Regions from separate parts of the Homo sapiens genome. Here regions 1, 2, 3, 5, 6 and 7 are each linked to region 4. The links come from fine-mapping of genetic effects on gene expression. A gene starts in region 4. Each other region holds a variant in brackets. All regions are shown on one strand. Distances are between the middles of the regions.

Region 1 (4,117 bases), 51 kb after region 4:
GAGGCGGCAAATCACCTGAGGTCAGGAGTTCGAGACCAGCCTAGCCAACATGGCAAAACCCTGTCTCTACTAAAAATAAAAAAATTAGCTGGGCATGGTGGCATGCATCTGTAATCCCAGCTACTGGGGAGGCTGAGGCAGGAGAATGGCTTGAACCCAGGAGGTGGAGGTTTCAGTGAGCCAAGATCGCTCCATTGCACTCCAGCCTGGGCAACAGAGTGAGACTCTGTTTCAAACAAACAAGCAAACAAACCAGGAAAACAAAAACCAAATTAAATGAAGGAGCTGGGATCGAGGTCTGTAAACAGAGCAGGATCAGGGTAACCCTTTGAGTTCCGCCTGATCAGATTCAGATTTGAGAGTAGTGTCACCACGGCTGAGGAGGCTTCCCAAGGTGACATGGACTGAGGGATCATGTCTCACTTCTGCGTTCTCAACTAGCAGGACTCACTCTTCCATGGCCTGAGGGCTGCAGAATGGAGGGGAAACAGAGTCCTGCCCTGGCTTGGGAGTTGGAGACCTGAGTTCCTGCCCTGCCTTGCTATGAGCCCCACTCTGTGTGGGACCCAGTGTCCTCACGAATGGAGTCTGTCTTGCGCAGGAGCAGGCAGGCGGCCCACGTATAATAAACAGCTGATCCTCAGATCATAGAGGGTAAAGGGTAGGGGTGAAAATGGAGGGTGCGTGCCCTGCCTGTAAGCACTAAATTCAAACATTTAAAGATGACCGTGCGCTGCTGACCAGGCAGACTTGGCGAGCAGGGTGCCAGTTTGAGATCCCTCAGCTAGAGGATTTCTAGGGCCCAGTCTGGTTTGACAGCCCCTCTTCCTACCCACCATACCTGTGCCTTACCCATCTCCTGAACTCCTGTCCTTCACATCCTTACCCAGGAAAAGGCTAAGGAATGGCCTGGGAAATGTTTATTACATCAAGTGGGGCATGTAGTGATACCATTGAATAAGTTATCCTTGAAAGATGTTTAGTGTTTGGGAGTTTGCAAGCTCAGACCATTTTTGAAGGGGAAAAAAAAAGTCTTTGTGTTGAATGTTCAGTTCCTCTGGCGTCCGGAAGGTTCAAACCAGTTCTTTCCATCCCCTTCAAACAGATTTCTGTCTCTGTGGGATGCCCCAAATGAAGGAACTGGCTTACCTTTCAGAGTCACAGGGTAGAAAAATATGTATGACTTTAAGCCCTAGAGAAGCCTGGATAGCCAGTGCTCCCCTTGGGGCGGTGTCTGGGGCTGAGATGGTGGAGGGAGCGCAGAGGCAAGTCTCCCAACCTCAACTCTGAGTGGAACAGCAGGAGCTATTACCACACCATTTACATGTGTTATGCCTCTGTCTGTGCAAGCTCCTGTAGATGAATTTGCAAGTTAAATGCATTTAGGTTACAACCATACCATACAAGGCACCTAATTTTCTTCTTACAAAGAATGACTAATCACCTGTTAGGAGAACTTTTGAGGACTATTATAGTATCATTTTATATATGTGTGTGTAAGGAGGCAAAGTATATGAGTGTGTATATATATTTGTCTCTTTATTAAAGACCACTTCTGTGATCTCAAATGTCATTGTCACTCTGAATTTAGACATTCATGCACACATAGGGTTGCTAGAGAAATACAAGACACCCACTTACGTTTGAATTTCAGATAAACAACGAGCACTTTTTAGCATAAGTACGTCCCAGGCAATATTTGGGAATACTCACATTCAAAAAGTATTTGCTTTTTGCCTACATTCAAATTTAACTGGACATCCTGTATTTTTATTTGATAAATCTGAGAATGCTACAGACACACAAATACACACATTTGTGGATATGCCTCCACAACACCCCCGATACAGAGACACAAATAGTGCACACGTATGCATAACTTGGCTGTCCTTTGCCATGGATTCAGACACACACACACACACACACACACACACACACACACTTCCTCCTCTATCATGAGCACAGCTGTGTCCCCAAGGTGCCCTCCGAGTTGAGTTTACAACCGCAGGGTCTGTTGCTGCTTCCTGAGGCGGGTT[C/T]CTCCCGGGTTTCTTTAAGAACCTGCAGTTCTGGGCAGCCATTACTCTTTCCTGAAGTTCCCATGGATTTAACAGCTTTGGACCTGGTTTGGAGCAGGGCCCCGGCTGCAGGCTTCCCTCCCGTCCAGGCTGCCCTGCCTGCCTCTCCCTGAAGGCGTCTCGGTTACTTGCGGGCCTGGCCGGGCTGGCTGGTGGGCTTTCTTGGGAGCAGGCCTCTTCCCTCCGGCTCCCCAGCTGCTCGTATCCGGGTTTACAGCCCCGGGGCAGTGCCTACAGGGCCTGCAGGCTGGATGTTCTGAGATTTTTATTGGCATCTCCATCAAGATGAGGGCCATGGGGGTCCTTCAGGTCTTCCGGAGCCGCTTTATTGGGGCTGGCCTTCCAGACACGGCGGGGAGCAGCGATTTCCAGGGGAATCTGGTTTCTCTGCTGGGCTCGCACCCGTTTCCTCTGTGTTTGGCTTGGCAGCGCCTGGGCCTGGCCTGTTTTGAGCCTCACCTCGTGCTTGGGCTTTTGTGGCCTGTCGGTGGATGAGGTGGCGCGGAGTAGCCGTTTCTCCTCAGCCGCAGGGACACAAACGGAGCTTTGTATGGGGCAGACGCAGGTGGAAGGGAAGGAGCTCAGGCCTCTCCTGTGCTCGGGGAAATGCTCTGGAGTTGGAGGACGTTAAAACACAAGTGCAAACCACTCCAGATCGTCTGCACCTTGAAAGCCCAAGCTCACTCGTGGGAGGACTGAATGGCCGGGTCTCAATGACTGCCGCCTTCTTTGGGACCCGGAATAGGAAAGAGGTGCAGGGAATAATATTCTGCGAGGGGATTTAAATTTTAAAACCCCAGTGGGGGTTAAGCTCACAGTGAGCTCTGGGCAGCAGATGGCCAGAGTGACCTTGGCGTTTGAGGCGGGGAAGGCAATGCCTGGGGAGAGAGTGCCTGTCCCGGGGGGTCCCCTGCTGTCCACAGGTCAGCCCATGTGGGCCACCAAACCAAATGACTAGCCAGCCGGCTTGTAATAAAAGATTCAGGATTGGCCCGGCGCATTGGCTCACACCTGTAATCCCAGCACTTTGGGAGGCCGAGGCGGGTGGATCACGAGGTCAGGAGTTTGAGACCAGCCTGACCAAGATGGTGAAGCCCCATCTCTACTGAAAATACAAAAATTAGCCTGGCACTGTGGTGGGCACCTGTAATCCCAGCTACTCGGGAGGCTGAGGCAGGAGAATTGCTTGAACCTGGGAGGCAGAAGTTGCAGTGAGCCAAGATCGCACCACTGCGCTTTAGCCTGGGGGATGGAGGAAGACTCTGTCTCAAAAAAAAAAAAAAAAAAAGATTCAGGATTAGTGTTTGACCTGAATTATGTCCCCCTCCAAATTCATATGATGAAGTCCTTGTGAATGTAGGTACTTCAGAATATGACTGTCCCCACCTCCCTGCAACCTCTGCCTCCCAAGTTCAAGATATTCTCCTGCCTCAGCCTCCCAAGTAGCTGGGACTACGGTGTGCGCCACCATGCCCAGCTAATTTTTGTATTTTTAGTAGAGATGGGTTTTTGCCATGTTGGCCAGGCTGGTCTCGAACACCTAACCTCAGGTGATCCACCTGCCTTGGCCTCCCAAAATGCTGGGATTATAGGCATGAGCTGCTGTGTCCAGTCTGGACATAGGGTCTTTAAAAAGATAATTAAACTAAAATGAGGTCAAACTGGTGGGCTCTAATCCAATGGGACTGATGCCCTCGTAAAAGAGGAAATGTGGACACAGATACACGCAGAGAAGTCCATGTGAGGACACAGGGAGAAGACAGACGTCTGCAAGCCAAGGAGAGAGGCCTCAACAGAAACCAGCCCAGCTGACACCTTGATCTCAGACTTCCAGCCTCCAGAACAGTGAGGAAGTCAGTTTCTGTTGTTTACACCCCCCAGTCTGTGGTACTTTGTTGCCGAGGCCCAAGCAAACAAATATGGTAGCCACAAGAAGGAAATGATCAGGGCGGGTCTTAATTTTGTTTTTTATACTCGGCCGATTGGAGAAGGTGGCCGCACACTTGTAGTAGAGTGTGATCACAGAGACACCAGTGCGTCCA
Region 2 (4,000 bases), 130 kb before region 4:
AGATTTGAGACAGGGTAGCTCAGAAAAAAGTAATGGATTGGAGAGAGGTTGGAAGAAGCTATGGTACACTAAGGGTTAGGGAAAGAGGTATAGTCAACGCTTGCTTCAAGAGGAAGGAAATAGAGAAAAGGGGGCTGCTGGGCATCCTACAACTTCATAAACTTTCAAGAAAAGTATTTTTCATCCAACAAATATGTGCTGAATGCCTATAATGCACAGAAGCTCAGAAGTTAGTTTGCCAAGATCACCCAGAGATCTGGTGACAGAGCTGGGACTCCAATCTAAATCTGGCTGACTCCCAAACCTGACTTCTTTCTCTAGCCCACAATACCTCCCAGAGAAGAAGGCAGTGATTAAAATGAAAACAAAAAAAAGGGTTCCTTTAAAGAGAACACTGCTAGATGAAGCTATTCTTGACATCTGAGTGTCAGGGATTTAAACAAATTAGCAGTGCGATTGAGGCCGTGGATTGTTGAGGCATGTGTATATTTAAAAACAACTTGGTCAAACAGTACAAAATACTGGTTGTCTTTTTCCCATAGACAAGAATGTTTTTTGGCATGTTGCTCCAGCCCTGGCTGGGAGGAACTGCTTGCTTGATGTGTTCTCATCAAGGTTCTCAGAACAAGTTCTAAACACAAAGAAGCCAGTATTCCCAGCATTGTGGGGTCTGGCAACTGCAGAACACTCAGCTCAGAAACTCTGATAACTTTTGTGGGCTCTTGGGGAACCAGCAGCTCTGAGTCTCCAGGCTTTTGACCCACACCTGACCAAGCTCACCCCATGCCCTGTCTCACACACAATGGTAGAGAAGTGACAAGACCTGAAGGTCCTGTAGGACTCTTAAGAAAAATCAGAGTGAAGGCCAGGCACAGTGGTTCATGCCTATAATCCCAGCATTTTGGTAGGCCAAGGCAGGAGGATCACTTGAGGCCAGGAGTTCGAGACCAGCCTGAGCAACAGTGAGACCTGTATCTATAAAAGATAAAAAAATTAGGTGGGCGTGGTGGCATGCACCTGTACTACCAGCTACTTGGGAGGCTGAGGCAGGAGGATTGCCTGAGCCCAGGAGTTTCAGGCTGCAGTGAGCTGTGATCACACCACTGTACTCCAGCCTCGGTGACAGAGTAAGATGCTGTCTCTTAAAAAAAAAATCAGAGTGAAGAGGGCAGGTGCTCACGTGGAGCCCAAAGATACAGGTGTCTGCACACGATGGAAATGGAACCTGTGCAAAGTCCATGCAAAGTCTGTGCACCGGGCTCACTTCCATGAGCTGCTGACTGCTGTTTTCCAAGGAAATGCCTGATGAGAGCAAGGCGCAAGATCTGTGGAGCTCAAGGGGATGCTTGTGTCTCATGTTTGGTTCTCCCACGCTGGCTGTTAGGGGAAAAGAGCCATAGCAATTTTCAGCACAGAAGCACAATAATGCCCACTCCAGCTCCCAGCCTTCCACCACCCAACCCAGGTCCTGGACCTTGTCATTAGGGCAGCCCCCTCATCAGTTGGATGGGACAGAACAACCTGCTATGTGGTGATGGTTCCAGATGGCAGCTGCTGGCCCAAGACGTTAAATCTTCCCCAAATGCTGTGTCAGCAGTGATTATGCAATGTCGGGGAAGGAGAAATAACACAGCTGGGCCTCACAGGGCTTTGTGCAGTCTCATTTCCTGGCTGAGAAGGTCCCGAGATACCAGGCTGACTGGAAGCTCCCACACAGCCCATTTCTGGGACCTGAGGGCGCAAGGCTCCACAGAGGAATACCGGCGGGGAATGCAGTGGAGACCCCCAGGAAGGTGTCTCCAAGCAGAAGGGAGAGAGAGGCCG[T/C]GTCTCAAAACTCCAGAGGCTTCTGAAGTCCTTCTGGAGAGTTAAGAAAATCGGAGCTCATGTGAAAGCATTCTTGTCATACAACTGCCTTCCAATGGCATGACCACGGAAGGAGAACAGCTCCTCACCAAAGCAGCCATGATGGATTCTGACATTTTCGTAAGACACATCTGTACTTGCTAATTCTGACTTTTGTTGGAGAGATGAGCTCCATGGTGTTCTGAGTCCCTAGCGATGGTGGGTAGGGAGGTTAGCTTCAGCAGCTGAGGCTGTGGTTTTGTAGTAAACTTAACTGGGAATGAAGATGGCTATCTGGAGGTCATCAACTAGCAGGGCGACTAGTCGTTTCCTCTTTCTAATCTTCAGTTTTTCATCTCTTAAATGAGGCACTGAACGCTTACATAATTCCTGAGGTTTTCGAACAGTCTGTGACTTACAGAGATCAACAACACAGGCTGCCCCCAGTGCCTCTGCCTTCCCTCTGTTCCATCCTGATAAAGAGCAGGCATGCACTGCATGGGAAGAGGGTGGGGGGAACTATGCTGAACCTCAGAAATGGAGACGCCCATGTTCTGGGTGGCTGCCCGAGGGGCAGCAAGAGTGTCCTGCTTCTGAGCCTTGGTGGGAGAACATCTCCCCACAAAGGTCAGGTCTGACCAGGAAGCCCCGACCACCTGATCATCAACTATGGCAAGATACAAACTTCGACGAGGCAATGTTGGCCACGTTCAACAGAGAATCCGCGCTGTTTGTTTGCTGGCAAACACCTGTGTGGACTACTTGTTTCTTTATTTTTGAGACAGCGTCTCGCTCTGTCACTCAGGTGGAGTAAAATAGCAGGATCATAGCTCACAGTAACCTCAAAGTCATGGGCTCAAACAATTCTCCTGCCTCATCCTCCTGAGTAGCTGGGACTATAAGTGTATGCCACCACTAATTTAAATTTAACTTTTTGTAGAGATGGAGTCTTGCTATGTTGTGCAGGCTGGTCTTGAATTCCTGGCCTCAAGCGATCCTCCTGCCTTGGCCTCCCAAAGGGCTGGGATTATAGGTGTGAGCCACTACTGTGCCTAGCCAGTTTTCTGTTTCTTAAGTGAAGCAAGGGTGGTAAAGAAAACCTAGAACCCAGACCACCACATAGACTATATCTTTGGGGAGGCAGGAGATCTAAGATCATTTACTGACAATAGGCAGCAAAACCAGGGGGAAGGAAGGAAGGTAATAACTAATCATGGCATTCAAGCAGAGCTTAGCCATGCTATGTATCCCTCTCCTGCACTTGGCACAGCATTACACAAAATCACTTAGCAGACCACAGCTCAACAGGATGGATGTTGCTGCAGTCCCAGCTGGACTCAGGGCACGTTCACAAACCAGTCAGAGCAGCAAGCCCCCTAAGCAACCTGTGAGATAACTCAAATGGGGTTTATGGATCAAGATGGTATACTGAACACATGAGCCTGTTTCTTCCCTCATGAAACCCCATGAAAATAGGAGCAGAGGAATGAAAGTTATATTAATACAACCATGAACACAGAATACAGAAGAGAACAGTAAGCAAGAGCTAGCAACCTATTTATGCAGGAATGGAACTGATGGAAAAGTGAGCAGGGAGGGGGATCCTAAAACCACATGCCTGCAGAGGGGAGGCCACAGAGTGGTCAGCAGAGATGCCCTGTGGCCTCCAGGAGAGGCTTGGGGATTGGAATAGGAGGGATGGGGTGAGACATGGGGCTGAAGACCAGGGCATTTATTGGCTCTGAGGTCCCCTGTCCTTCCCATGCAGCCAGATGACCACTGTGCTCCTACTCCATGGAGAAATCAGAGCAGCTCCAACTCAGGGACACCAGGCACAGCAAAGGTTGAAGCAACTTAATGAAAGTCTAAATACTCACGGGTGATGAGGCTGCCTGCTCAGCGGTCAGGACTCGGGCACACTGAGTATAGACCAGGGTCTCTGGATATGGTCCTACAGTTGTGCATTGCACAGAGGCACTTGGCTAAAGAGGGCAATTAGGAGTTAAAATCTAGCCTTTTCATTGTTCCTCGAGCATTGTCCAAGCTCAGAGCTGGGTATGTCTGGAGGAAGGGGCAAAAGGTGTCCTTTGCCAGTCAAGCCAAGTGCTCATGGGGACTTCTGCCCAGATGGGACACCATTTTTGAAACCACATGAGTA
Region 3 (4,117 bases), 34 kb after region 4:
GAGATGCTCTTCCTTATTTTTTTCAATATTATTTTCTCAGTTCAGATCATTACATCGTGTGTTTTTTTCAAGGTCATGCTCATTTCTTCCGCCACTTCTGATCTGCTTTAAGCCCATTCAATAGATTTTACAGATTTATTGATGTATAATTGCCATACAATAAATCACACATATTTAAAATGTAAACCTGGAGGAGTTTTGACATAGGTTTATGACTATACAAAGGGCACCATCCCCAAAAGCTTCCTTGGGCTACTTTGAAAGCCATTCCTCTCTCTCTGCTTTCTGATTGGTTTGCATTTTCTGGAATTTCATGCATCTTTTCTTTTTCTGGCTCTTCCTCCCAGCATGATAGCTACGCACTTCATCCATGTTGTTGCGGGGTGCCACAGGCATCCCTGCTTGACTACGTGCCTGTTTTTATTGTTATATAGATGCACCACCGTTTGTTGATCTGCTCATCTGCTGATGGGCCCCTGGGCTTTTTCTCGTTTTTAGCTATTAAAAATAAAACTGTTATAAGCATTCATGTAATGATCCTTGTGTGGAAATATGCTGGCATTTCTTTCTTTCTTTCTTTCTTTCCTTCTTTTTTTATTTTTTGAGACACAGTCTCACCTTCACCCAGGCTGGAGGGCAGTGGCGGGATTTTGGCTCAGTGTAACCTCTGCCTTCTGGGTTCAAGCGACTCTCCTGTCTCACTCTCCCAAGTAGCTGGGACTACAGGTGCCACCACCACGCCCAGCTAGTTTTCATATTTTTAGTAGACACAGGGTTTCACCATGTTGGCCAGGCTAGTCTTGAACTCCTGACCTCAAGTGATCTGCCCGCCTCAGCCTCCCAAAGTGTCGGGAATACAGGCATGAGCCACCATGCCCAGCCGTGCTTGCATTTCTTTTGTGTAAATATGTAGGGATGGAATGGCTGAATCATATGTAGGTATGTATTTAGCTTTTATAAAAACCACCAAACTGTGCTTCCAACGTGGCTGTTCCATTTTACATGCCCACCAGCAGTGCTGGACACCCTACATTGCTCTCCATCCTTAGAAATACTTGGTATGGTCTGTCTGTTTAAAATAGTGAAGAGCTTTAGAAGTGATAAATACCGTATGTTGGTAAATATAAAATATATTATTTCTTTTAGAAAATCCCTTTAACGGCTTGGCAATGTTGTCCATGCCTGTAATCCCAGTGCTTTGGGAGGCTGAGGCAGGAGGATTGCTTCAGGCCAGGAGTTTGAGACCAGCCTGGGCAACATAGCAAGACCTTGTCTCTACAAAAATAAACACAAATAAAAAAAGTTAGCCAGGTGTGGTGGTGCACACCTCTAGTTCTAGATATTTGGGAGGCTGAAGTGGGAAGATGGCCTGGGTGACAGATCAAGACCCTCTCTGTAAAATAAATAAATAAATAAATAAATAAATAAATAAATCCTTTAAAAGGTAATTATTAAAAGTAAAACTACTATCAACTAACATATTGTAAGGTGGAGTTTATAACATACATAGAAGTAAAAATATATGACAAATTAGAACAATGGCCAGGAGAGGAGAAATGGAAGTATACTGTTATAAAGTTTTCATATAGCACATGTCGTGTTATAATATCACTTGAAGGTAGATTGTAATAAGGGAAAAATGTGTACTATAACCCTAAAGCAACCACTAAAAGAAAACAGAGAGGGGTAGCCAAGAAGCCCACAAGAGATAAAATAGGATCATAAAAGAATTCTCAGCCGGACACAGTGGCTTACACCTGTAATCCCAGCACTTTGGGAGGCTGAGATGAGAGGGTCACCTGAGGTTAGGGGTTCAAGACCAGCCTGGCCAACATGGTGAAACCCCATCTCTACCAAAAATACAAAAATTAGCTGGGCGTGGTGGCAGGCACCTGTAGTCCTGGCTACTTGGGACGCTGAGGCAGGAGAATCACTTGGACCCAGGAGGTGGAGGTTGCAGCGAAGCTGAGATCACACCGCTATACTCCAGCCCGGGCAACAAGAGCGAAACTCCATTAAAAAAAAAAAAAAAGCTCAACCTAAAAGACGGCAGAAAAAGAGGAAAAGGAAACAACAGATGGCACGCTATCAACCAGCGTGACTTAG[C/T]TGATATTTATAAAACACTTCACCCAAGGACAACAGAATACACACTCCTCTCCAACGCACATGGAATATGTACCAAAGTAGGCCATATTCTGGGCTACAGAACAAGTCTTGATAAATGTAAATGAACCCCCACTTTACAAAATTTGCTCTGTGCTCACAAATTAGACATCAATACCCAAAAGACATCTGGAAAATGACATAATATTAGAAACAAAATAATATACATCTAAGTAATGCATGGGCCAAAGCAAAAATCAAAAGTTGCCCATATCAAAACATCTCATGTACCCCATAAATATATACACCTACTATGTACCCACAAAATTTAAAAATTGGGGTGGGGGGAGAGGGGAGCGATAGCATTAGGAGATATACCTAATGTAAATGACAAGTTAATGGGTGTAGCACACCAACATGGCACATATATACATATGTAACAAACCTGCACATTGTGCACATGTACCCTAGAACTTAAAGTATAATAAAAAAAATTAAAAAAAGAAGAAATCAAAAGTAACTCAAAGTGAATGAAAATAAAAACTGACATTATCAGTACTTGCAAGATGCAGCTAAAGTGGTGCTCAGAGGAAAATTCATAGCATGAATTGCCATTAAAAAAGAGGAAAGGGCCAGGCTTGGTGGCTCATGCCTGTAATCCCAGCAATTTGGGAGGCCAAGGTGGGCAGATCACGAGGTCAGGAGATTGAGACCATTCTGGCTAACACAGTGAAACCCTGTCTCCACTAAAAATACAAAAAAATTAGCCAGGTGTGGTGGCGGGCACCTGTAGTCCCAGCTACTTGGGAGACTGAGGCAGGAGAATGGTGTGAACCTGGGAGGCAGAGCTTGCGGTGAGCCGAGATGGCACCACTGCACTCCAGCCTGGGTGAGAGAGACAGACTCCGTCTCAAAAAAAAAAAAAAAGAGGAAAGGTCACGAAGCAATGACCTAGGCTTTTACCTTAGGAAACAAGAAAAGAGAGAGCAAATCAAGTCCAAAGTAAAAAGAAGAAAGGAAATAATAAAGTAAAATTAGGTATCAGTGACATTGAAAAGCCAAGAGGAGACAGAAACACAAAGTCAAATACTGCATGTTCTCACTTATAAGTGGGTGCTAAATGATGGGTACACAGGGGCATGCAGAGTGGAATAGTAGACATTGGAGATTATGAAACATGGGAGGGTGGGGATGGGGGTGAGGGATAGAAAATTCCCTATTGGATACAATGTTCACTCTTCAGATGATGTGTATAGGAAAAGCCCAGACTTTACCACTATGCAATATATGCATGGAAGAAACCTGCACTTGTACCCCCCAAAAATATACAAATAAAAAATTAAAAAGGAGAGAATGAAACAAAAGCTTTTTCTTTGAGAAAATCATAAAATTATATGCTTTCTTTTTTTCCCAAGAGTTGTATTCCCACCAGTTCTGAATTGCATTCCAGTGCCTTCAAATGGTTTTTTAAAAATTTGCTATTCAGAGATTTTAATGGTTACAATCAGGAGGCTTGGTCAGATTCAAGCCACCCCACCATTTACTGTACCTGGAACCCTGGCTTCCATAGCTACTTGTCACACTGTATGCTTCCTTCTGTAGCCTTCTCTCCTACTTATTTGATGTTTCCCATTGTCTGTGAGCCAGGAGATCGAATAATCATACTTGTGAGAATTGTATAACAGCCAGAATCAGTGGCTCTGGCAGACTCTCTGGTGAATGAGGTCTGTGCGTTTCCATTCAAACACCTCTTTTGTTTACTTCCCAGGAGATGGTATGATGTAATGAAATGGAGATGGGCCACAGAGTCTGACTTGACCGAGGTTCAAATCCTAGGTTTGCCACTTAGGAGTATCATGACCTTGGGCAATGTACCTCACCTCTGTGGACTCAGTTTCCTTACCTGTGAAATGAGGTTGCATTGAATCTCCAGACTGCTGTAGGGCCTAAAGGACATAATATATTGAAAGTTCCTAACATCACCCCTGGCACCCCCTGGTGCTCAGCACAAATG
Region 4 (4,000 bases):
CCAGATACAGGCGAGAGCACAGAGGAATCACACCAGCACAATGCTGGGAAAAAAAAAAAAAAGGCCAGAGTACATACTGTATGATCCAGTTGTATATCAGGTTCTAGCGGCAAAACTAACTTTCAGTAATGGATCAAGTTTGCTCCCTTGGTGGTCAGGGGGCAGTGTTATTGGCTGAGAAAGAAGATGAATCGACCATCTAGGGTACTGGAAATCTACATCTTGATCTGGGTGGTTGTTACATAGATGTACTCATACATAAAGTTTTGTTGAACTTAATAAGTGCACATTTAAACATATACATACATTTAAAAATTTATTTTTTTAATGGCAAAGCCTGTTGATGCTTAAATTGTAACTGATGTTTGCCTAAAAGTGAGGACAGTTCACTGGGAGCTGAGGGAGAGGAGCCTACTCAGTGAACTCCTACCCAACCTCCAGGACCCATCTCAAATTGTCCCTATTCTGTAAAGCCTTCTCCCACCGTTCTGGTTGTAACCTAATGTTCATATTGCGGGGCATCTCTTCACAACAATCAATCTTCTCTAAACCAGGAGCTAATCCTAGAGGAATGCAGGAACTTGTTGCACGAAGCATTGGTTAGTATGTGCTTATTAAACACTCAATGGTTGCCTAAGACAGACAGGTACACACACTCACACCCTCACAGTCCAGCAGAAGACACTAATGCCCACCCCCAAACAGGATGTCAGTTCTTCTCAGGCAACAGGATCCAGGCACTTGGCTTATTATCAAAAGAGATCACTTTCAACATCCCAGCCCAAGCCTCCTCCTTTAACACAAATCACAGCCAGAAGAGATCAGAGCGGCCCAGAGCAAACTCAGTTTCCAGTGTCCACCCCAGGAGGCTCCCCAGTCCTTTTGAGGTCACCTCTGCCGGCACTGTCCTTGCCCAACCTAGGGGTGGGGCAGACCCTGGGCTCCCAGGAAACATTCAATCAGGTGTAATGTTTAAACTTGACTGCTCGGCCATCCCCCAGCGCTGGGGCTCCCTACCCTATAACAGTAAAGTCGCTGCCCTGGCTGGGGGAGGGCACCCACAGCCCCATCGCCTCTCTGCCCAGGCCTCCCAGCTCGCTCCTAGCCACTCCTAACCTTGAACCCTCTAGAAACCCAAGCCAGCAGGGGAAGCAGCTACAGAAACTTCACCTGCACAGGTCAATGTGGGTGAAGAAGGGCCGGAAGTGGTGTTCTGTCTAGTTCTGCAAAGCCCATATATGAAAAAAAAGAAGCTGGAGATACAGTTCCATGAAGAACACCTGTCTGTTGGGTGGATAGGTTGTGGAGGGGAAATTATGGGTGACTTTTTTCCTTCAAATATTTTTGTGCTTTCTAAGTTTCCACATTGAATAAATTCTTTTGAAAGAGAAACACACTTCATGTGTGGCACCGCCATACCCAGCCGCTCTCCACCACTGGAGTTTCTCTTTCACCTCTTCTCAGCTACCTCCCAGGTAGAAGCCTTGGTCCCAGTGTCCTGTGCCCAGGCAGGGTCGGAGTTGGGGGCCAGCGTGGGGGAAGGGTGGGGCTCTCGCCCTCTCCCCAGTTAGAGTCCTGATCCTGCAGGGGAGGGGCAGCTCCCTAAGCAAAGTGGCCGCTGGAGTTGGGTGCTTGCCTGACCCCACCGATCCGATCCGCACCCCTGGCCCCGCTTTCCCCAACTCACCCCCTGAAGCGCCGCCCACCATTCAATTCCCCTTGCCTCGAAGGTACTTAGGAAGTGCGCGAACTCACACACACACACACACACACACACACACACACACACAGAGTCGCACTGTCTCCTCCCCTCCCTAACCTGGGCCACCGCCCCCAAGAGCCCACGTACAAACTTCTCCAAACTCGCAGCGGTGACTGGAGGGGGTGGTGACGTCCCCCTAATGAAAATGCGAGCCCTCGCCCCACAACACACACACGTGTGGCGCCCCACCCCCTGGGCAACTGTAAACCTGGCCGCGGCTGGCCGCCCTGGGGCTTGGGGGCGGGTATCCAACCCCAGCCTCCCACCTCGAGGCAAGTGACAGGAACAACGAGCGGCCGGCGAGCGGGGGCGGCGCGGGGGAGTTGCCAAGTGTCGGAGCGGCGCCCCGGGCCCCCCGAGCGCCCAGCCATCCCGGGGCGAGCCTGGGCTGCGTTACCTTGCAGGTTCTGCACTCGGATGTCGCTAATCTGCCCGATGAGCTCCTCGCGTTGGAACCAGTCCCACTCGTGTGCAGCCATGAAGCGCGGGCGGGAGAGCCCGGGCCAGCGCGGCGCGGGCGGCGGGCGCGGAGAGCCTGGCTGGCGGGCGCGCGAGCGGCACGCACCCGGCGAGGGCGCCGCGGAGCTGGAGTCGCGGCGGGCGCGGGCGGGGCGCGGGCGCGGGCGGGGCGGGGCGGGGCGGGGAGGGGCGGGCGGCGCGGTCGGGGCCGCCCCCGCCGCGGGCTGGCGCGAGCGAGCGCGGGGCGGCGGGTGCGGGGCGGCGGGCTCGCTCTCACTCCCCCGTGCGGGGGCGGGGGCCCTGAGGAGCGAGGGGCGAGGGGCGAGGGGCGGGGCGGGGCGGGGCAGGGGCGGGAGGCTGGGTCAGGCCAGCTTGTGTTTTTTTTCTTTCCGGGGTGTTTGTAGGTTGGATTGTTTGGTTACAAACCGGCTGTGATGAGGCGCGGGTCCCGGCCCCCAGATTGTGATGTCTCAGGGGGCGGTGGGCCGGGTGACGCAACTGGGGGTGGGCCCGTGGGTCCCAGTACCTGGTCCAGGAGGCAGCGTCTCCCTCCCGTCCGGGATAAGACACCCCCTCCGCGGGTCCCCTGTCCACTCTGGAGAGGCAGCCCCCACTTGGAGGGACCAGGACCCGAGCCCTGCCCATCCCCGAATCCTGGGAGCCCTGCGTGGGGAGTGTCGAGGGCCTGGGTCGGGGGGCAAACTAGTGTGGAGGTAAAGTTGTGGGAGTCTCCAAAGTGCGGGGGGGCTGTGAAAGAAGGGCCTTCTTCGTTGGTTTAGATACTAGGAGCCTTTTCCGGTCCAGTAATGTGACTCCAGCTTCTAGGAAGGAACAAGAAGCAGGCCAACTCCTAGGAGCTGGGGTACGCTGTGGGGTCTCTGGCCACTGAGTCTCCAAGTGACCCTCTGTGGGGTCACTGGAAATTAGTGAAAATGCCAGGACAGAACTTCCTGTGGAGACTACTGAAAATGCCAGGACAGGCCTTCCGGTCCCCTCCCTCCCCACCTCCACTGTTGAACTCTAGAGAATTCCAGGATCTTATCCTGTTTGGTGCCCACCATGTGGTTTACACTCCTTAAAAGTGAGACCCTACAGTTACCGAATTTGCCCAAGGTTGAGGAATGACTTAGGAGCAGGAAGTCCCAGCCCCCTGCTCCCAGCTCAGTGCTTGGGCCCTTTCTGTGACAACTAAGGCCACAAAGAAAATGGCTTTAAATATTCAGTGTTCCAAGAGGGGGAAAAAAATGGACAGGGCTCACTGGGCATTTAAACACATGGGCCTGTGTGCATCGCTGCTCTGTTCACAGCAATGAATCCCGGAAACCCGGCTGCTCACTAATTACCCAGTAACTATGGAGGTCCCCCGAAGGACAGACCTGTGCCCTTGAGGCAGGGCCCTGAAGGAGGGTGAGTCTACCCTCCAGTCATCCATTGGGGCAGGGGCTATCGTGTGGCCCTTAAACAAGGAAAGGAGATTTCTAAAGTGGACTCCAGAAAGGAGAAAGTCAATTTGGGTTAAGGAACTGTGAATGCGGGTGGAGGGCAGCAGAGGTCTCTAAAGACTGACCTTGGAGCTGAGCCCAGAAGGAGGAGAGGAACCCCCACAGGGACAGCAGTTTGGGCGGGGAAAGGTGGGATCAGTGGAGACAGAAGTGGAGGCCCCATTAGGGGCTCCTTGGTGCTTGGGCTTGAGGCAGGAGCTTCCTTGCTGCTGCCTTGATTCTTAATCTTGTGGTCATTTCACACTCCAAGGAGCAGGATCTCTTTCTGCGTCCTGTG
Region 5 (4,000 bases), 130 kb before region 4:
ATACTGATCGCTTGCTGCTGTTTGTTAGTAACGCAGGGGACCCCATAGGTCATCTAAGGGATGAAGTGTCCCTAATAGCAGATCATTTTAAATCATCTATCAGAAAGAAACAAAGACCTCTCCCATTCCCCACAGTTTTGTTTTGGCTTTGGAATATTACCTTTAAAATAATTACTAGATTTGATTTCAGTCAGATTTACCTTCCTGCTTTTATTTTATAGGTGGTAGTGTTAAAATGTCATTTCAGTTTTGCCTGGCGGATCATAGGGAAGCCCAGAAGGTTTTGCCTGGGGCTGGGGCCTCTGCTTGGAGCTGCATGTAGAGAAGCCTGCAGTGTAAGCCTCTTAGGGTGGTTTCGTGCGGTGTAATGGAGATTACGAGAGGCTAAAACCACTTGTCCCAGAACTATCTCCTGATAGCAGGAGCGAGGGGCAGGGTGGGATTAAACATCTGCCACAGTCTACATACTGAATGATAAATACCCACATGATGGTCTTCTTTAAAAAGCTGTCCACAGAAACAAGTTAAACTATATACTTTTTATAGAGACACGGTCTCTCTGTGTTGCCCAGGCTAGTCTCAAACTCCTGGCCTCAAGCAGTCCTCCCTCCTTGGCCTCCCAAAGTGCTGGGATTACAGGCGTGAGCCACCATGCGCAGCCTAAACCATATTTTTTATTATAAAGGTAATAAATGCTCAATGTAGACAACTGAAAACACGACTGCATTTCTCAACTTTACAGGTTCTATTTTCAACGCCTCTATCTCATAAGAGCAAAAAGGATTATTTTCCTATGAGCATATCCAGCCTGGTGGAAAACTTGAATTAGTATTTCCATTTCATGGCAGGGGAAAGGAGCTGTCTTGCTTCTTTTTTAGCAGCCAGAGGGATGGGGTTCTAATGACCACACTCTTGGGTGTTGGGTAATATTCAGACAGAGGCTTCCGATTCCAGTAATCTAAATCCTTCCAAGCCAATTCAAATCTGTGGCGAGTAAATAAAATTTTTTAAAAATAAAAACATAATAAAGCAACTCTATGACTTCAACAGGAATGGGGACGTCTCAGAATTGTAAGAATTTGAGACGTTTTTCTGGTTTCCTATGTTTTAAATGGGCAGGTTTCCAGCAATTCAGCAACATTAGGCCAGGCCAACAGTTCTCCGACAGCAAGAAATACTTTCATAGACATCCTGGCATGTTTGCTTTCCCTCTTCATGTCTGCTCTGATGCCATAAAACTGTAAAATCAGCTCAGTAAGCTTCTGAGTACTGTACCTGCAGTGGCAACAGAGAATGGACAGGCGTCAGGGGCTACAGCATTCACAGGGGCCACACAGCCTCACAAGACCACCACCTCTTCTCCTGCCTGGCCGTCCCTTTGCTAACTACCCTATACCACTAAACCACCCTATACTCTATACCACTCATTTAAACACAGCTGCAGGCTCAGAACCCAGACCCGTCTTTAAACTGACTCATTTTCGGAACCGGGCCCTAACCATCAGTGTTAATTAATATCTACTTTTCCTTTCTACTCATATTCAATTTACATCATTTTCTCTGGAATAGTTATTTTCTTGCATTATCCCAAATTATTAATACTGTTATCAACAAAGCAGTGGGAGAATAACCACCCCTGTAAGGCAGGCTGCAGAATGTAAAAACATTTTATTACTACCCCCACAAAACCTGAAGTAAAGCCACCAACCTGGTTAATATTCGGTTTCTTCTGTCATCCAGATCTGCTGCGTTCCTCAACTGAACATAGCTAAAATGATCCTACAGTGAAATTTATAAACAAAAGCCCCCGCAACCCAATTAGTAAAGATGAAATCTCTGAAACAGAAGATAAAACGATTTTAAACACACAAAGCCGAGCATGCCGGGCATTTCTCAATACCGCCAGCGTCTAGATCCAAAATCAAAGTGCTAAACAATATACATTCCTCTACCTCCTCCCCTAAGCCCCTCCCTTGTGAGTGCGAGAGACCCCACCACCCGGAACCCGGATTGGGGTGTGCTGCTCCGGGTTCTAACACATCTGCTACTGAGCACGTGCCACTGTCCATCGGACCTTGACTCATGTTGCACCTCTGTCTCTGAACGTGATCCTTCTGGGTGCGCGCGGGGTCCAGGTGAGGCGTTTTGGGTGCGTTTTTATAGCAAGGAGGCCTTTGGGCTTTAAAATCCTCACTTTATTTACATC[T/C]CTTATTGCCCAAACCGGATATCCGATCGGACTGTGCTTAATGATAAGGTTCCAATCTGCTTGTCTTCTATCCAAAAGTATAGCTGTTGCATGCCAGTAATTTCAAAGCTCTGGGCTGGGGAGGAGGAAGGATGGAAAGGAATTGATTAGCAGGGGCCGTGCGGAAAGAGAAGAAATTCACATACTAACCGATTCCGAAGACCTATGAGTATGTCGTCGAAGGTAAATGCTGGAGTCACTGTGACTAGTCCTGAAAAACAAACACATGTTTTGAATTGGTACCACCTGGAGCTCTTCATGGCTCAGTTGTACGGTCACCCCCATCCTGGGGTTTCCACGTATGGGTTTAGGCAAGCGACAACTTCACAGCCAGGGACAGAAATGACAGATTTTATATCTAACATGCCTACTTTGGTTGGACAGTGCTTACAAATAGGATGGATATTAGTGATACACACATTGGGCCCTCATCTACAAGAAAAATCAAAGTCAGGATTTTAAATAGAAAGCAAGGCACATATTCTTAAAAATCAAAGCATTTGGAGCAGGAAGTAACCCAAGCATCCTGATGTGCTGGGACTCACCAGAGGTTCTCTGCAATTAGTCAGACCTGGGCCTAGACCAGGCTGCCCTGACTCTCTCTACCTGCGTCTGAGGTCCAAAATGTACAAGTGGGAATGCTTGCCTCGCACTTTTCACATTCCACCCAGTCCTAGCGGAATGGAGGGTAACGTCCTATTTCCTTGAAGGATGGAGCCCCGCCTGAATCACCCCTGTGGCTGACCTCTTTCTCCCTCTCCTGAAGTCCCCAGGCCTAGCAGACTCCATTGCATAGTGGCTGCTCAAGGACTCTTTGAGAATTAATCTGCTTAGGGAGAAGCTGAGCAGTTGGGCAAATCCCCTGCACTGTTTGTCCAAAGTGCTCACCTGCACTGACAGCAGAGCCCAGCGACATGAGAAGATCATAGATGACTGCTAGACAGTCACACCCAGGGGCAGGGACAGGCACGCTGGGAGTCAAAGGCCAAGTGGGCAGCAGCCTTCTGTTGTGCCTTGGCCCTCCTCCCCCTGCCTCTGTTTCCCCAAAGTCCAGGCACAGAAGCAAGGCAGAGGGAGGTGGAAAGCCAGGCACCTGCCAGCAACTCCTCTGGCTCTGTCTGTATGGGCTTCTCCCTACCCCTCCCCAAATGCATACCTCAATAGTTTTCTGTTGCAGCTTGTATTACATCATCACAGGCAACAAGGGGGCACAAAAAGAATGTGGAATGTGGAGTGGGACACATCTGAGTCCAAGACTCCCTAAGCTGGGGAAGTTACCTGGCCCCCTGACCTTCTTTGTCTGCCATATGAGGCACAGTCCCACCAATGTGTCTATAGGTGACGTGAGAATGAATGAGAAAATGAATGTGAAGTTCCTGGGCACAGTAAGGGCTTGATCAACACTGACTGACTATTGTGACGATGAGAGAGGGGAGAGACCAGGGTCTTCTGATTTTCAGCAGTTACACATTTTCCCTGGGACAAATCTGGCTCATCTGGTGGCCTTGGAGTGACAGAGCAGAGGTGTGCTATGAGATTCCTGTAGATCAGTTAAATCTCATTATCCTCCCTGCTCCCTCCTTCTCCCAAGCTAAATCAAGCATCCCTACTTCCTTGGAATGGGAATTGTGGAAGAAGCCATAATATTAATGAGATGTCCAGCTTCCACGTGCCAGACATTAATGGTCTCCTTGGTGGAAAGGTGGATATGCTTGAAGTCATTAAGATGCTTATAAAGTGAAGTCTGGTCAACCT
Region 6 (4,117 bases), 28 kb before region 4:
TTTTGCTCAGGGGCCAGCTTGTCACCTCCCCCACCAGGGGGTTGGCCTCCTTGTGTGTAATCGCCACCTAAGACAGGTTTAAAGACATGCAAGAATCAAACACAATAGCTGAAGCCTATAACATTTCAAGGCAAAGTGTCCATTCTTTGGGGGATGTCTTTTGGGAATTCTATCTTCAAAATAATATAACCTTTAAAAAAGAAAAGCTCCTTAATCCTCACATGAAAGACAAATTGCCTCCAATCCAAGGCTGTTTCTCGTTGACACCTGCAGAGCCCTTCACAGTGTGCAAAGCCACTCAGGTGCAATGGGTCCTAGTGCTAAACCCTTACCATGATGCCCTGGGTCCGCCCCGCCCACTCTTCTTTCTTGGGTGGTGGTGCTTTGTGACTCTGTCACACTTTGACGCTCCCCCAAAGATGTCCAGATCCCAATCCCTGGAGTCTGTGTGTTGCCTTTATGTGGCAAAAACAGACTTTGCAGATGTGTTAAGGATCTTGAGATGGAGAAGTTTTCCCGTAGTCTCAGGGAGGGCCTTAAATGTAATCACAAGGGTCTTTATAAGAGGAAGACAGAGGGAGATGTGATCCAGAAGACAGAAGAGAAGAGACAGTTGATGGAAACAGAGTCAGAGAGAGTTGAGACGCTGCTGGCTTTGAAGATGGAGGAACAGGCCACAAGCCAACAAATATGAGGGCCCTCTAGAAACTAAAACAGGCAAGGCAACAGATTCTCTCCTGGGGCCTTCAGAAGGAACGCAGTATTACCAGTGCCTTGAATTTAGCCCAGTGAGACTGCCTCAGGTTTCTGACCTCCAGAACTGTGAGATGCCACATCTGCATTGCTTGTAAGTGCTCACTTTGTGTAAGTTTGTTACAGCAGCCCTAGGAAACCCACGGACCTCCTTATGGTGCTTTCAGCTCCCGAGCGTCAGAACAGCTTCTCAGTATTCCTATCCCCACCCTAGTGCTGTGGTATGCAGTAGGTGCTCAATGAATGCTGGTTCTATGAAGGGTGGTAGCCTAGGGATACCGACGCAGAATAACTAATAATACCAAGGACATGGAGCTCCTGTGCTTGCAGCAGAGATGACACAAACACGTGCTTGCCAGGAACGCAGCTGCTGATGCTGCTATGATTATTAATATCCTTCTAGGCACCTGCTGGGCTCCGAGCTGACCACGCTCTTCTGTCAAATTCTTAATTTCTTCCTCTCCCAAAGGGCAAGAACAATTTAAAAAGAAACCACCTTGGAAAAAGCTTTAGCTGGCCAGAGTGGAACCCGGGCTGTGACAGCGTCCCTGGTTACTGATGACAACATTCACCCACCCAGCTGAGCCTGGGCGTGAGCCTTCCTGTCTGCCTGGGGCTTGGCTCGCCATCCAGGAAACCACCTGTTGCAGGCGCCTGTGAAATGGGAGCCAGGCAGCCTAGCCATGGCGATGGCCTGTAAACAGATTTATCCCGCCCACATGGAGCCGCATCCCTGCAGCTCCTGCGTCTCGGGGCTGGCTAATACCTGGGACCGCATGCTGCCTGTGCCAAAAAAACCCAGACACACATCCTCCTGGAAATATCATTGGCCACAGGAGCTGTTTCTCATCCCCAGAGCTCCAGGTTGCAGGTGCGGCTGGGGATTATCACTTCTGCAAATAAACACCAAGCCCAGGTGAAAGCTCCAGGAGAGACGGAGTCAGACTGGCCCCAGCAAACCTC[G/A]CTGGGGAATGGGGAGCCCTGTCCTCCTCCTTAAAAGTGAGCTGAGCGTACGTTATTCAGAGCCCCATAGATAAATTCCCATAGCCTGTGACCCAATATTTCCACATCTAGGTATCTGTCCTCTAAGATCACCAGAAATGGGGACAAGAATGAACGTGCAAGGAGGTTCAGCAGGAGGTACCAAAAAGCATGCAAAGCTGGAGAAGCCGTGGATGGCCAACAGCAGTTAAGTCAGCCACAGAAAGAATGCGCATGCAGCCCCAAAAATGCTGGTTACCCAACATTTAAAACATGGGAAAATTCTGAGGTCAGAACACAAAGTGAAAAAAAATAGGATCCAAAATTATATACATGGTGGACTGAAATTGCTAATGGCAATGACAAGCATTTATTGAGAACTGACTGTGTTCCTGGCACTGTGCCAAGGGTTGACGTGTTCCCACGTCCTCATCTGGCCTCACTGCAAGCCCGAGAGGAAGGTCTGACTTTTGGGCCTATTTCACAGATAGGGGGACTGAGGCATGGAGAGAATTCAGCGGCTCACTCCACACAACTACACGTCCTTAACACCCTCTACACCATTTATGTTAAAACTCGACACATTCACAGGGAAAAAGCCCAAAAAGAAAATGCATCAAAAGGTAAATGGTAGTCATTTCTGGGTGGCATCATTTGGAACATTTTGTATTTTTCCATATTTTATACAGTGGACATGTACTACTTTTAAAACCAGAAACTATGCTATTTTTAAAAGTCTCCAGAGATTTCATAAGCTCCCCTAGGATGGTTTAAAATAACAACACAAACAAACACCAGTAATGAGATCTGCCCCCCAAGGGTCCCCCACCCCCACCCCCACCCCCACCTCCACCCCCTGCATCTTGGGTCACAGGCTCCATGGCCCTCCAGGAGGTGTAAGTAAAAGCCTTACTGTCTCCCTTATTGATTTTTGTCCTTCCTCTAAGAAATGTCCTTGAATTTAAATAACTTCAGGTCAAAAGCCTAAGCAAGCTCTGCCCTGCACACTCACGGGGACCGACGGTACCCTCTGACTTCACCTGCTCTGCAGATTCCCAGGCTGGTGGTAGGGGAGGGTGGGGACCATTATGCTTGTGCCCCCACTAAAAACACCAGCTTTCCCACGAGCTAGGATTTGCTGGGAGCTGGAGAGAAATCAGCATAGCCTGATTAAATTAACATGAACCAGCTCAGGGAGGGCGAGATGAAGCTCCAAAAGCGCAGGCCTGTGAGAGCACGGGTGCCCGGTGTGGGTCTGCTCCTCCAGGGACATGGCTAATTGCACCCCAGCACATCCAACCGGCCACAAACATGATCATCCAGGGGTAACCACGGAGCAGGAGAAAGAAGTGGGTAAGTGACACAGAGCAGAATGCAATTTTGCACATAGCCGTCCATGGCCATGAGAACCACTAGGAATGTATTTGGGAGATGGTTAGAAATAAAAAAATTAAAATGACAATAACTATGTCAGGGTAAATGAGATGGAAAATCCCTGCCCTCCCCTCCCTTCCCTCCTTCCCTCCCTCCTTCCCTCCCTTCTTCCCTCCTTCCCTCTCTCCTTCCTTCCCTCCCTCCCTCCTTCTTTCCCCCCCTTCCTTCCCTCCCTCCTTCCTTCTTTTCCTCCCTCCCTCCTTCCTTCCCTCCCTCCTTCCCTCCCTCCCTCCTTCTTTTCCTCCCTCCCTCCTTCCTTCCCTCCCTCCTTCCCTCCCTCCCTCCTTCCTTCCTTCCCTCCCTCCCTCCTTCTTTTCCTCCCTCCCTCCTTCCTTCCCTCCCTCCTTCCTTCCCTCCCTCCTTCCTTCCTTCCTTCTCTCAATACCTCCTTCCTCCCTTCCTCCCTATTTTCAAGTTTTCTCTGACTTGTTTTTAAATCAAATCAAATAACCATACATATCTTGAGGCCTCCCTAGGCAGTCTGTCAGCCTCTGATCTTCACTGTCATTCTCTATGGATTCAAGACCAGGAGAATGGGCTCTGTGCACCTGCTCCCAGCAGGCAGGAACGAGCTGCACAGACCCCAGCACTGGATAAGAAGGGCAGAGACATGTGGGTGTACTGCGCCCCCTGTCTCCCACCCACCCCCGCCCCGCAGCCCTCTCTGGCTTGTGAAATGGAAAAATAAATCTGAGGCAACAACACATCCCCTGGCTGAGCTGTCCTGTGAGGCTGAGAATGGGGTCCAGGCTCCTTCCTTTCCCAAGGGTCTCGGGACCATCACACAAACCTGCAGTCTCTAGAAACCAAGTCTGGTGTTGTTCTACGTGGTACGGAATGAGGCAACATGAAGTAGAAAACAAGGAAAAACTCCCTCCCACTCCCTCCTCAGTCTCTCACTTAGCGTTTTAGCTAAAACTTACCAAACGCCAGCAGGGAAGGTGCCAGC
Region 7 (4,115 bases), 58 kb before region 4:
TCTTCACTCAGGACTCTTCAGCATTAAAATGCATGGCCAGCTGCACCTGCGTTTCCTCTCCCCACACCCACCTGGACGGCTATTCCCTTGCGCTTGGTGGCTCCTGAATATGCCTGCTTGCCTGGGGCTCCAGGCCTTTGCACACGCTGTTCCTGCTGTCTGGCACTCTCTCCCTGCACTTCTCCACCTGCTCGTCAAATTCCTCTGGCTGCCCTCCCTAAGATAGGGGTGGCACTTCCTTTCCACTCCCTGCTATTGCAGCACCCACGACTCTGCATCCTCCTGTGGGCATCTGGCACATGGCAGGTGTTCAGTAAGCATATCATTCATTCATTCATTCTGTCCTGCATATTGGTTCACTAGAAGAATGGATCAAAAAGCCAGGCGCAGTGGCTCACGCCTGTAATCCCAGCACTTTGGGAGGCCGAGGCAGGCAGATCACGAGGTCAGGAGATCGAGACCATCCTGGCTAACACGGTGAAACCCCATCTCTACTAAAAATACAAAAAAATTAGCTGGGCGAGGTGGCGGGCGCCTGTAGTCGCAGCTACTCGGGAGGCTGAGGCAGGAGAATGGTGTGAACCCAGAAAGCGGAGCTTTCAGTGAGCCGAGATGGCGCCACTGCACTCCAGCCTGGGCAACAGAGCCAGACTCTGTCTAAAAAAAAAAAAAAGAATGGATCCAACAAACAAATTACTGAATAAAATGTTTGTTGAAAGAATCAAGCACTTACAATATTGCCTGCTATGAGTGGAGACGTTATCTTAGACACATCCTTAGTCTTCAGGGAGCTTGTGATTTTGACACACAATAACAGAAGGCTTGTGGGAAGTGTGACTAATATCTTACAGTCCATGTCAAATGTGAAATCAATGGTAAACACAATACATATTGTGGGGTGAGTTGGTGTGGGTGGGAAACGATCCTTGGAGGCTGGTGTGACCATGGGAGGCTTCCTGGTGGAAGTGTCTTTGACTCAGGTATTGAGTGACTACACAACCCAGTTTATCTCCATTGTCCAAATGAAATACAGTTGATTCTCATCATTCACAGTATGATATTCTATGAAGTTGTGGTCAACCCTGACTTGTGAATACTGAATCATTGTTTTTGTGGAAATACAGTATTAGGTTCCTGCAAACCTCTGGTTACAAATTTTTTCCAACCAACCAATACATACCCTTGACTCTTGTTTCATGTGTGTTTCTGTCTAAGGAGACTTTATTGAATATGCATTGATGACTCACTAACACTGAACTCATGGCCAACAGCGCTGTAACTCATCCCTGAACGAAGCTTACTGAACACATGTATTTTCTCCGCAAGGAACGTCAGAGCCTTTCTGCACTTCCGGACTCTGACTGGGGGCTGTTTTAAACGGCAAGATCACCGAGAGAAAGCACACAAATGCAAAAAAAAAAAAAAAAGTGGCACTAAGTAAGCTGTGGAAAGGACACTTATTTATAGTTTGAGAGCTGAAGCAGAAGGCCGAGGCCCATTGCCTCGTTTCACCTCCGCTGGGAACGTGCGCGTCTGGCTGCTCAGACTTTATGCCGCTTTGCGCACCTCCGTGAAAGACGAGCACTGATTGTGGAGACACAAATACATTTCAGAGAGTGGGTGAATTCCCGGATTCTGTCTTTGTAAACTGGTCTACTCTCTAAAATGGATTTGTAGCTACAAATGTCATGTTACTGCCATGGTTTTTGCATTTTTGTAGTTTCTCCTGGGCATCTTGCTATCTAAAACGGCCCTCAGGTATAGTGCTGAAGTGCAGAAAGGCTGCAATATTCCCTGCAGAGAAAATACACTTATCAGGGAATGGAATGGAATGAGCAGTCACTCTCAGCAGTGAGAGTCACCAGTTTTAGAGGACCTGTGCCTCTGC[A/G]TTGCGACCTGGAGACCACACAACTGCTGTCGGGAAGGATGGCTCTTCCAAGCCTGGCCTTCCCAAGATGCCCACAGGTCCACCCGCTCCTCTCATCTGCCCATTGGGCAGTTATGCCCCAGATGACATGGGGATCCCCACAGCCCATGCCCCCCTGCAGCAAGAACCTGGAAGTCATCACTGGCTTCTGCGTCCCTGGCCTCTATGAGTATCCATCAGCCTCACTCAGAGGGAATGAGTCCTGACAACCTGCGAGCAGCTTTGTCCCCCAGATGCCTGTCCTGGAAATTTTTCCTCCAAGCGGCAGCTTGGCTCTGGGCTCAGGAGGGCCCGCATCAAAGGCCTGGCTGTGCCTGGCTGACAGGCGCTGGGGCTGGGCCAGCGTCCACGCCTGTATTCCCAAATGCTCCCAAACATCCTGGCAAATCAATCTGAACTCTCCACGTGTCTCCCCACATCGTTTGGACAGCCAGCAACCCGATGTCATCACCTGTTCAAAAGCATTAAAGCTATTCTCAGAGCTGGGCTCCAGGGGACTCTCACTGAGCTGATGTTTTCTCAGAGCCCTGTACCTGCGCTGGGGTTCACTGAGTTTTTGGCCTGGCTACTGAAAACCACTCTGCCAGCTGTTCTGTTCAACAGAAGAACAACAAAATAAATACATTCCCAGTGACCAGAGGACAACTCAGCAAGCAGCGACCTGAAAAATAATCTAGAACAAGCAAAGAGTCAACCAAAAGATATCCACGTGACATTTATGAAATGCCTAATAAAAATAGCTACCACTTCTGCAGCACTTGTTATGTGTCAGGCAGGCACTGTGCTTAGGGCTTTAGAGACAGTATCGTATCCAATCTTGGTAAGTTCAAGGTAGGGCCTACTCTTTTTCCCATTTCATTTATTTATTTATTTTTGAGACAGGATCTTACTCTATTGTCCAGGCTGGAGTATAGTGGTGTGATCATGGCTCACTGCAGCCTCATCCTCTCCAGGCTCAAGTGATCCTTCCACCTCAGCCTTCCGAGTAGCTGGGACTACAGGTATGTGCCACCATGCCCGGCTAATTTTTGTATTTTTTCTAGAAACAGGGTCTCCCTATGTTGCCCAGTCTGGTCTCAAACTCCTGGATTCAAGCAATCCTCCTGCCTTGACCTCCAAAGTACTGGGGTTTCAGGCATGAGCTACTGTGCCCAGCCTCCCCATTTTCTGGATGAGAAAGTTGGCCTCAGAGAGTCAAGTCATGTGTCCAAGGCCACGCAGCTTGTTCTTCTGGGAGGTAGGAGCAAAACTAGGCCATGGTCTCAGAGCACAGCTCTTAACCACCCTGCAGTGACAGTGGCTCCCAGGCTCAGCCTGTGCCACCCAAACCAACTGCCCAGCGCATATGTGGCTCCCTGTATTAGTCTGTTCTCATGCTGCTAATAAAGACATACCCGAGACTGGCTAATTTATAAAGGAAATAAGTTTAATTGACTCACAGTTCAGTATGGCGGAGGAGGCCTCAGGAAACTTACAATCATGGTGGAAGGTGAAGGAGAAGCAAATACGTCCTCTTCACGTGGCAGCAGCAAGGAGAAGTGCCAAACAAAGGGGAAAAGACCCCTTATAAAACCATCAGATCTCATGATAACTCTCTCACTATCAGGAGAACAGCATGGGGGTAACTGCTCCCATGATTCAATTACCTCCCGCCAGGTTGGTCCCATGGCACGTGGGGATTATGGGAACTACAATTCAAGATGAGATCTGGGTGGGGACACAGCCAAACCCTATTACCCACTGGGGTCTGGCACCTACAAGCCTGAAAGATCCAGACACTGATGAGGGAATGAAGTAGCCACATCCACCTAGCAAAAGGGTTCCGGTGTGACCCAGGAAAAGGAGCGGGAGGCATCTGCCCACTTCACCTCAATGCAGGAGTTTGGCAATGGAGCCCTAAACGTTACTTGGAATATGAATTCACAGGTAGCATAACTGGATGTTCCAGCTGGAAGGGCATGAGACAGGCTTTGCAGAGCCTAGAGCAGCCAAAGAGATGAGGTGGGGGTGGCTGGGAGAAGAAAGGAAACCTCGGATACATTTTGTAAGTTGTGCCTCAATTTTCTGGAAAATGGGGATAATGGCAGTGCCCACCTTGGGGGGTTGTTGTGAGGATTAAATGAGTTAGTGCCTGTGAAGAACTCACACAAGTGACTGGCACAGCAAATGCCCAGTGAGTGTCGGTTAT

Direction of the effects. Positions count from the first base shown, and alleles are read on the strand shown. Sizes are in standard deviations (SD) of each study's normalised expression. Not every link is listed here.
In carriers of allele T in region 2, the expression in whole blood of the gene that starts at base 2,357 in region 4 tends to be lower than with C alone (small effect, 0.24 SD a copy in GTEx).

Evidence for each region.
Region 1: its variant is fine-mapped to the expression of CLMN in whole blood (INTERVAL, PIP above 0.99).
Region 2: its variant is fine-mapped to the expression of CLMN in whole blood (GTEx, PIP above 0.99).
Region 3: its variant is fine-mapped to the expression of CLMN in whole blood (TOPMed, PIP above 0.99). The same link has a PIP of 0.9 or more in T cells, blood mononuclear cells, monocytes, monocytes after LPS and monocytes after Pam3CSK4.
Region 5: its variant is fine-mapped to the expression of CLMN in whole blood (TOPMed, PIP above 0.99).
Region 6: its variant is fine-mapped to the expression of CLMN in nasal epithelium (TOPMed, PIP above 0.99).
Region 7: its variant is fine-mapped to the expression of CLMN in whole blood (TOPMed, PIP above 0.99).

Annotation. Positions count from the first base shown.
Region 1 is chr14:95,368,992-95,373,108 of GRCh38, forward strand. LOC107984710 (a long non-coding RNA gene) reads left to right here. Exons shown (of 3, transcript XR_001750863.1): 3 at 1-10. Among named protein-coding and RNA genes, the nearest start is that of LINC02292, 41 kb to the left of the region's middle. RefSeq lists enhancers at 133-634, 635-1,134, 1,086-4,117, 2,391-2,943. The variant C/T (reference allele first, on the strand shown) is at 2,037.
Region 2 is chr14:95,183,964-95,187,963 of GRCh38, forward strand. CLMN (calmin) reads right to left here. Exons shown (of 13, transcript NM_024734.4): 13 at 1-4,000. Among named protein-coding and RNA genes, the nearest start is that of DICER1-AS1, 28 kb to the left of the region's middle. The variant T/C (reference allele first, on the strand shown) is at 1,825.
Region 3 is chr14:95,351,786-95,355,902 of GRCh38, forward strand. All of the region lies in intron 2 of LOC107984710 (a long non-coding RNA gene), which reads left to right. Among named protein-coding and RNA genes, the nearest start is that of LINC02292, 24 kb to the left of the region's middle. The variant C/T (reference allele first, on the strand shown) is at 2,107.
Region 4 is chr14:95,317,552-95,321,551 of GRCh38, forward strand. CLMN (calmin) reads right to left here and starts at 2,357. Exons shown (of 13, transcript NM_024734.4): 1 at 2,160-2,357. The coding sequence starts at 2,241. RefSeq lists enhancers at 1,228-1,347, 1,368-1,447 and a silencer at 2,078-2,337.
Region 5 is chr14:95,192,141-95,196,140 of GRCh38, forward strand. It overlaps CLMN (calmin), which reads right to left. Exons shown (of 13, transcript NM_024734.4): 11 at 2,396-2,456; 12 at 1,709-1,779. Among named protein-coding and RNA genes, the nearest start is that of DICER1-AS1, 36 kb to the left of the region's middle. The variant T/C (reference allele first, on the strand shown) is at 2,207.
Region 6 is chr14:95,289,873-95,293,989 of GRCh38, forward strand. All of the region lies in intron 1 of CLMN (calmin), which reads right to left. Among named protein-coding and RNA genes, the nearest start is that of CLMN, 28 kb to the right of the region's middle. The variant G/A (reference allele first, on the strand shown) is at 1,717.
Region 7 is chr14:95,259,782-95,263,896 of GRCh38, forward strand. The region is part of intron 1 of CLMN (calmin); the gene reads right to left. Among named protein-coding and RNA genes, the nearest start is that of CLMN, 58 kb to the right of the region's middle. RefSeq lists enhancers at 1-308, 1,510-2,136. The variant A/G (reference allele first, on the strand shown) is at 1,889.